Regions from separate parts of the Homo sapiens genome. Here all the other regions are linked to region 2. The links come from fine-mapping of genetic effects on gene expression. A gene starts in region 2. Each other region holds a variant in brackets. All regions are shown on one strand. Distances are between the middles of the regions. Region 1 overlaps NSUN3 (NOP2/Sun RNA methyltransferase 3). Region 2 holds the start of STX19 (syntaxin 19). Region 3 has its middle 150 kb from the start of PROS1.

Evidence for each region. PIP is the estimated chance that this variant, and not a neighbour inherited with it, causes the effect.
Region 1: its variant is the best candidate, but not a certain one, in a credible set for the expression of STX19 in spleen (GTEx, PIP 0.90).
Region 3: its variant is the best candidate, but not a certain one, in a credible set for the expression of STX19 in fetal neocortex (Walker 2019, PIP 0.52).

What each region holds. Positions count from the first base shown.
Region 1 is chr3:94,106,887-94,109,658 of GRCh38, forward strand. All of the region lies in intron 5 of NSUN3 (NOP2/Sun RNA methyltransferase 3), which reads left to right. Among named protein-coding and RNA genes, the nearest start is that of NSUN3, 45 kb to the left of the region's middle. The variant G/A (reference allele first, on the strand shown) is at 1,620.
Region 2 is chr3:94,026,890-94,029,661 of GRCh38, forward strand. STX19 (syntaxin 19) reads right to left here and starts at 1,708. Exons shown (of 2, transcript NM_001001850.3): 1 at 1,478-1,708. All of the region lies in intron 3 of ARL13B (ARF like GTPase 13B), which reads left to right.
Region 3 is chr3:93,822,535-93,825,306 of GRCh38, forward strand. No RefSeq gene overlaps it. Among named protein-coding and RNA genes, the nearest start is that of PROS1, 150 kb to the right of the region's middle. The variant A/T (reference allele first, on the strand shown) is at 1,628.

The DNA.
Region 1 (2,772 bases), 80 kb after region 2:
AATTCCCAAAATGCTTCAGGGAAGAAAAGAAATGGTTAAAGATGTGGTTTTACCATTTGTTAAATTATATTGTAGCAATTAAAACTTTTTTTTTTTTCTTGAGACAGGTGCACTGGCACAATCTCAGCTCACTGCAACCGCCACCTCCCACGCTCAAGCAGTCCTCCCACCTCAGCCTCCCAAGTAGTTTGAACAATAGGTATACACCAGCTAATTGTATTTTTTGTAGAAATGAGGTTTTGCCATGTTGCTCAGGCTGGTCTCAAACTCCTGGGCTCAAGCGATCCGCCTGCCTTGGCCTCCCAAAGTTCTGGGATTACGGGCATGAATCACTGTGCCTGGCCTAATTAAAATATTTCTATTGCTGTATCAAATTAGGCATATATATGTTTTGTTGTTGTTGTTTTGTTTTTGTTGTTGTTGTTTGTTTTGAGGTGGAGTCTCACTCTGTCGTCCAGGAGTGCAGTGGTGTGATCATGCCGCCTTGACCTCCTGGGCCCAAGTGATCCTCTTGTCTCAGCTTTCTGAGTAGCTGGGACCACAGCATGTGCCACCACACCTGGCTAATTTTTTATTTTTTGTAGAAACAGGGGTCTCTCTATGTTACCCAGGCTGGTCTCAAACTCCTGTACTCAAGTAATCCTCTTGCCTTGGCCTCTGAAAGTGCTGGGATTATAGGTGTGAGCCACCATGCCCGGCTAATTTTTTTTTTACTAGATTAATTTTCTTTAAATCAGACAGTCTACTGTCTCCTGCCCCACTCTCCCAAACTCTGTTAGGTTTCCCTTTTGTTACTAGAAAGGCAGTGTAAGGGACAACTGACATTTTTAAATGTCTTAATGGTATTTTGGGGACACCATATCTCAATTTTAAAACAGTGGCCATGTTCCGTAAAGTCAAGTTTACTTTAAAAAGGTTACCAAACTGTTCTACTCAATCAGAAATGAGACCACAATTGCTAAGTAGCTGCCCTCATTAACAGGCTATTTTACTTTCTGTAGGAATTTATTATTTACGACCCAGTTGGCAGGAAGAAAAACCATTCTCATTTTTATAAATTACTTGTTAGCAAAAGCTTTTTTTTTTCCTTTTTTTTTTTTTTTTTCAGATAAAGCCTCTGGCCTCTATCATTTCCATTTGTTCTATAACATAAAAGTTAGAGGTTGCTTCAACTATTCTCTACTCAGAATTTTTTTTGATAAAATTTTTATTTTGATATAATTTTAAACTTAGAAAAAAATGTAAGAATAGTACAAGGAGCTCCTGTGTGCTCTTTATAGAGATTCATCAACTGTTTTACATTTCACCACGTTTACTTTTTTTTATTATTATACTTTAAGTTCTGTGATACATGTGCAGAACTCTATTCAGAATTTTTGTTAGTTTCAATTAAATATATTTTCTTTGTTTTACACTGAAAATTCTCTTCCTGACCTGCCTCTTAATAAAGGTAGCATTTATTTGTTTTTTGTTTGTTTGTTTTATTTTATTTTGAGACGGAGTCTTGCTCTGTTGCCAGGCTGGAGTGCAGTGGCACGATCTTGGCTCACTGCAACCTCCGCCTTTCAGGTTCAAGTGATTCTCCTGCCTCAGCCTCCCGAGTAGCTGGGACTACAGGC[G/A]CACGCCACCATGCCCAGCTGTTTTTGTACTTTTAGTAGAGATGGGGGTTTCACCATTTGGGCCAGGATGGTCTTGATCTCTTGACCTTGTGATCCACCCACCTCAGCTTCCCAAAGTGCTGGGATTACAGGTGTGAGCCACCGCGCCTGGCCTTTTTATTTTATTTTTTTGAGACACAGTCTTGCTCTGTTGCCCAGGCTGGAGTGCAATGGCACAATCTCAGCTTGCTGCTCACTAAGGCGGAGGCCTCCCGGGTTCCATCAATTCTCCTGCCTCAGCCTCCCAAGTAGCTGAGATTATAGGCACCCACCACAACACCTGGCTAATTTTTTGTATTTAGTAGAGACGGGGTTTCACCATGTTGGTCAGGCTGGTCTCGAACTCCTGACCTCAGGTGATTCACCCAACTCGGCCTCCCAAAGTGCTGGGATTACTGGCGTGAGCCACTGCACCCAGCCCATTCATTTATTTAATAAATATGTTATAAAAATATAGTTTCCGGTTGTGCTGTATGTAAAAAATACAAAATGAATGCAACACAAACCCTGTTTTCAAGCAGCTAAAAATTTATTCCTTGGGAAAAACAGAATAGGGAGAAATTCCATGGAGAATCAATGAAAGTTTCAAAGACTGAGCTCTGAAGTGGGTCTAGGTGAAGAGACCATTTTTATTCACTTTTTTTCTAAGTGACTACAAGCTCATTCACCTAGTTAAAAGGAAATTTTATGATTTTTGTGGCAATTTGTGTAAGCATTAGAACTTTCTGAGCATCTAGAAAGAAGAGGCAAATAATTTTAATTCCTTGATTTGGTAGTTAATTACACAAGAGTGTCTATCTTGCTTTGAAGGGGCAGAAGTATTGCTAGCTATGTATCGGAGTTTGGTCAGAGTAAAATCTCCACAAATGATATAAGAGATTTATTATTGGAATTAGATATTATTTAATTAAGGGAGCTGTTTAAGTAGTCTGTTTTATTGCGTCACTGCTTCTGGTGGTAGGCTTTAAGTGAGCAGGGCTGGCAGTTAGCACGTGAGGTTAGCGGGGAGTAAAAGACACACTAGAATCCACGAAGACAAAAGATGAAACACGTCTCTTCTCTGCACATCCGGTTTGATGATGTGAGCGATCTGCAGAAAAGTTGGTGGATTCCA
Region 2 (2,772 bases):
ATGATAATCAACTTGGACAACTTGTTCTGGGAAATAGAAAAGTAAACTGGTGCGACTCAAATAAAAGGTTCTCTGCCCTATTACAGACACTGAAAATCCCTAGAAACAGAAACATGAGTAAAAATTACCTTGTACTTTTAGAAATATGCCCTGGGATAGATACTTAGTGTATTTATAGATTTTTTTAAAGTAGGCCATTTCTTTTCATAGTTACTGTAATGATTAAATAAAACATTTCAAGAAATATGACCAGTTTTTACCCAAGAGAAAACAGAATATTCTGTTGCTTTTGTATATGAAGTCAACTTGCCACATTTTTCTAGTGCAAGTGAAAGCAGAGGATCTTATTGTAATATATTAACCTCTTTGGCTACTAAAGTGAGGGCCAAATAGTAGTTTCTAAAAACTAAAAAAAAATTGCAAATTGCATATATTGTCTAATTTTGAAGTATCTGACTTTTTTTGCAATGTAAACTTTCAATGCTTTTTTCTACATTTTATTTAGTCTAAATAACTTATTGAATTAACTTGTATAACAACATTAAGATCATTTTTGTTTAAATATGATGTATAATTTTTGAACTTTTATCTGATTCAAGTAAGCTGTACATACATAAAATGATTTTTATATTACATTTAAAACTGCATAGCTGTGAAGATAATGTGTTCGAGGTATTACGTGGCCAATTCTCAAGTCCACCTTTAAAATACATATAAAAGTCATTATTATTTTGATTTGAAATGGAATATTTATTAAATTCTAACATAGTAACAATTATAACTTTGAAAGTATCTAACCTATCTACATATGTTGTATTTAAATGATGCTGATTTAAATTTTTCAAACTATCAATTAAATGCTAACACTTACGTTAAATGGTATAACAAGTATTTTTAATGTACTAGTTGAAATATTATAAAGGTTAGTGAGTACTTCGATATTTTCTGGTAGCCCTTTCACAAGATTATTTTCTCATTTTTTCAATTTTAGAAGATTCTAGTAAACAACAATGAAGCAATTAAGACCATTATAGCAAATTATTTCAGATTTTTAAGGTTATACGTATGTGTCAAATTTGGGTATAAGCTGCTTTTCAGAGTGAAATATAAAAATGTTCTCTAAAGTAAGCACATTCATAGTCTGTCTATAAAAGAAATAATTTTAGATCTGTTTTTACATCTGACTTTCTAGTATTTTTTAAATGAGAGCTTACTTTTTAAAAGACTTAAAAATTTTTTCTTTCCTCTAAAGTTGATTTTTATTATCGTAGTCTATTTTCAAGAGCTTTATACCCAGATCCCAGTCAGCATGTCAGTAATATATGTGAACAAATCAGCTACTGGTACCCCGGTCCAAATCTGAGCAAAACAAGTAACCCTCATTATTTGTTGAGTGATTTTTAAATGTAACAGTGTAACCAGATGTCAGTCTATGGATACCTCATATTAAAAAGTACAGAAAAGAGTCATTATTTACCTTTCTGTTTTCTTCCTTTTGTTGGTTTTCCACCTGCGGTGTTGGAGTCCTGCCTTTGAGAGAATATCTGAATATCATCTCATGTTTTGAACAAATTATCTAAATCTCTGTCTTATAGGGCACAGACTAATTTCTGTATAGTTTTCATGTTGTTAATTTGAAAGCCAAATAATGAAGTCAAATAAGAGATAAAGTTGTACGTTTGCTGTTAATAGCAAGTGAAAATAGATTGCTTACTTCACACCTGGAGAATCTGGTTCTGCCTGTTAGACGCCTATTCTTTAGATTAAAGGAAGATCATTTTCATTGGAGCTAGTCGGTAACAGGAAGTCCTCGTTAAACTGCCTACGTAGAGTATTTGGCACTGGATCTGCAAATTTAGTCCTACATTGTATATGTAATATATTATTCCAAGAAAATGGGTTTGTATTTAAACAAAGGTTACTTTCTTTTCTATAGATATCAAAACTTACTAAAAATATGGAATTAAATAGGAATGAAAAGAAGCTTGGTGTAAAAGCTTTTTTTGTTCCATTTACTTTAAAATGGTTGAAATCTGTCCTATTTTAGGAAATCCCAAAAGAGCTTAGCTCACAAAATCATAGAATTTCAGAAGGAGAACATCCAGGAAAGAGCTCATGTCTGTAAACCATTCATCCCACGTTACTTTTAATTTTTTTTACTTTTTATTATGCCTGCTGTTTTTATTTTAAAATAAATTTTATATAGAACTAAAGTTATCCAGCAATATATGTTAAATCATTTATTTTGTCAATATAACAACTCAAAATTAATTTATACCAGAGGGAAATGTTTATAGGAAGAATTAAAAATGAAAATTTCTCTTGTACTACCAAATTTCAGACCCATTTTTTCTACCTGACTTGTTACTATTTGAGGGCAAGAAGAAGGAAATTGCTGTATCTATCAAAATCATATATATATATATATATATATATATATATATATTTATTTTTTTTTTATTTTTTTTTTTTTTTGAGAAGGAGTCTTGCTCTTGTAGCCCAGGCTGGAGTGCAGTGGCACGATCTTGGCTCACTGCAACCTCCGTCTCCCGGGTTCAAGCAATTCTGCTGCCTGAGCCCCATAAGTAGCTGGGATTACAGTTGCCTGCCACCACGCCCAGCTAATTTTTTTGTAGAAATGGGGTTTCACCATGTTTGCCAGGCTGGTCTCGAACTCCTGACCTCAGGTGATCCACCTGCCTCAGCCTCCCAAAGTTCTGGGATTACAGATGTGAACCACCATGCCCGGCCAATCACATTTATATTTATTCT
Region 3 (2,772 bases), 200 kb before region 2:
ACGCCTGCTCTATGCCATTGTCAGATGACTGTAGTTAACAATAATACATAATTTCACATAGCTGGAAAGAGGATATTGAACATTCTCAACACAAACAAATAACTGTTTTACATGGGTATGTTAATTACCCTGATCTGAATACTATACATTATATGCATTGAAACATCACTAGGTACCACATGAGTATGTACAATTATTATTTGTCAATTTTAAAAGTTAAATTTAAAAAGAATCATTTTATTAATGTATAAAGTTCTGTGAATTTATTGATAAATTAATGGCTAATGAAAATAAGTAGATGGCCTGCGTCCATTATTATTTGCTCCTATTTAAGAGAAAATATGTTAGGTTTAACAAATGATTGCAGATAAATTAATTGGGAAAATGAATTTACTTTGTACATATTGTACCTTCTTGGATTCCTATTATTTGGGGAGAAATTTTATATTTTTTTCTTTATATTTGATACTTTAAAGACACTGTTTCACTGAGTTTGGAACAAAAGCAGTAACTTAGATTTCTGCTTCTCAGCAAATAAACAGCAGGTGAAGTTAAGAGCTTGATTAAGGAAAAGATTACCAGTGCTATTCTTTATTCTGCAACCAATAATTTTACAGTTAACAGGAAATAATAGGCCAGCTTTTTCTCCAGTATAGATGTTTTCATAGGAATTCTTGTGATGTGATTGCCAAGAATAGATTTCTATGTCTGCCTAATGTACACTGAAGAAATGATACATTTTTAAAGTAAACCAATCAATTTCTTCAGAGGCTCTCTTTTATAAGGACAAAACAAAATAGTCAACCAAGGATTCTAAGGCACTTAAAGAACGTTTCAAAGTGTAAATTACAAAAACCCATAATGTAAATAAGCACCAAGTGCCATCTCAAAACTTAAAAAATGTTGTTGGTTTTTTTTTCTGAGTTTGAGACTAAATCATTAGATAGGATATATACCAAGCTGTATGTTTGTGAGTTTTTCTTTTACAGGATGGGAATTACTTAGCAAATTTTTACCACCCAGCAACACAAATGGCTCACAATTAAGTGTAAGACAAATCCATATTGTAGAATCAATCATTGCTGTATAGAAAACTCAAGTAAAACTAAGATCATGTTAATTCGGAATCTCAGTCAGATTGATGTTTGAAGTCTACAATGCTATCACACTGTAGTTGTTCTTCAACTGTTCCTTTTTTTTTTTTATTTTGTTTTGTTTTCTTCCCCCAAATCAGACCCTCATACTGGCAAGTTGAATTAAAAACTTGTCATAGAGACATCTGTAAATGATTCTGTACCCAATGGCTATGACCAGACTCCAAATTTAATTATGTGTAAAATGATAAATGAAACAGAAAAAGTGCCAAACTTAATTAACATGCTGAATATTAAGTGGATTTAGTGGATATCATATTTTAAAGATTCCAAAATTTAATAGGCACTTAAAGCAAATGCAGTATTTTCCTTTGCATCACACACTCTATTCATGAACGACAGCATGCAACAATTGATTTAAAACATTTTCAAAACTGTGAGTATGTTTTTCCCCACATAAATTCATCATTGATGACACCATATGGCTCCATTAATGAAGAAGCTAGGCCATGCCAGGCTATTACCATGAATCG[A/T]GAAGATAGTTCCTTGTCACCAACCAGAGCCTGCTCATTTTTTGTCCTCTGGGCTTAACACAAAAAAATTTTCTCATCATTCAGATTTTTTTCTAGTTTGAGATATTTTCCAGGATTCTATTTTTGTTTAAATGATTGAGGAGTGGTGAGTTATGTCCTGGCCTTTTGGTTAGCAATCTCCTTTCATGCCTGCATAGATCACTGATAGGAAATTAGCAATGATTGCAAATGCCAGTTTTCTTCAAGTTGTGAGTCAATTGCAGGAAAAGCATGCATTCACCCACATCAACTAATATTTGCAAGGTAGTGGTGGGTAATAGCAAAGAGCACAAGTCTGGAGCAGAGTACCTGAGATTGAGTCAGTCCCTGTTTTGTCACCTTCACTTTGGCCAACTTAACCTTTCTGCATCTCTCTTGCCTCAATTGCTAAAGGAGGATAAGTGTAAGGTTATTATTAAGATTAAATAAGTTAATATGTATAACTCTTAAAATATATGCTAGTTATGATTATTATATTTCATAATTTATAGTTTCTCAGAGGATATTTTGATCATTTAACGCTATAACTGTTTCTTCTATTCCCAACGGCAAACATATCTGATTTATCTATGCTACTGATTCTTAAAATTGACTGCACATTGGCATCACCTGGACACATTTTAGAAATACTCATAACTGGTGTAGGCTGCAATGCAGGCATGGGTTTTTCAAAGCTTCTGATGTTTTGAATGTGCAGCCAAGCTTAAGAACCATTGATCTATGTCCCTTCTTACCTAGATGGATTACCTCTAGAAAAGAGAGTCAGAGTGAGATTGCGGGTAGTTTATGCTAATTTCCAAAGTCCTCTATGACCTATGACTGTTGTCTCAGTTCATTCCTACTGCTAGAAGAAAATACCACAGACTGGGTTCTTTATAAACAACAGAAATTTGTTTCTCACAGTTCTCGAGTCTGGGAAGTCCAATATCAAGACACTAGCAAATTGGGTATCTGGTGAAGGCTAGCTCTCTGCTTCCAAGATGGTGCTTTGTTGCTGTGTCCTCACATGGTGGAAGGCAGAGGGGCAAAAGGAGGGCCTAGATAGTCTCCTTCAGCCCTTTTATAAGGGCATTAATCCCATGTATGAAGGTCGACCTCCTCAGGAT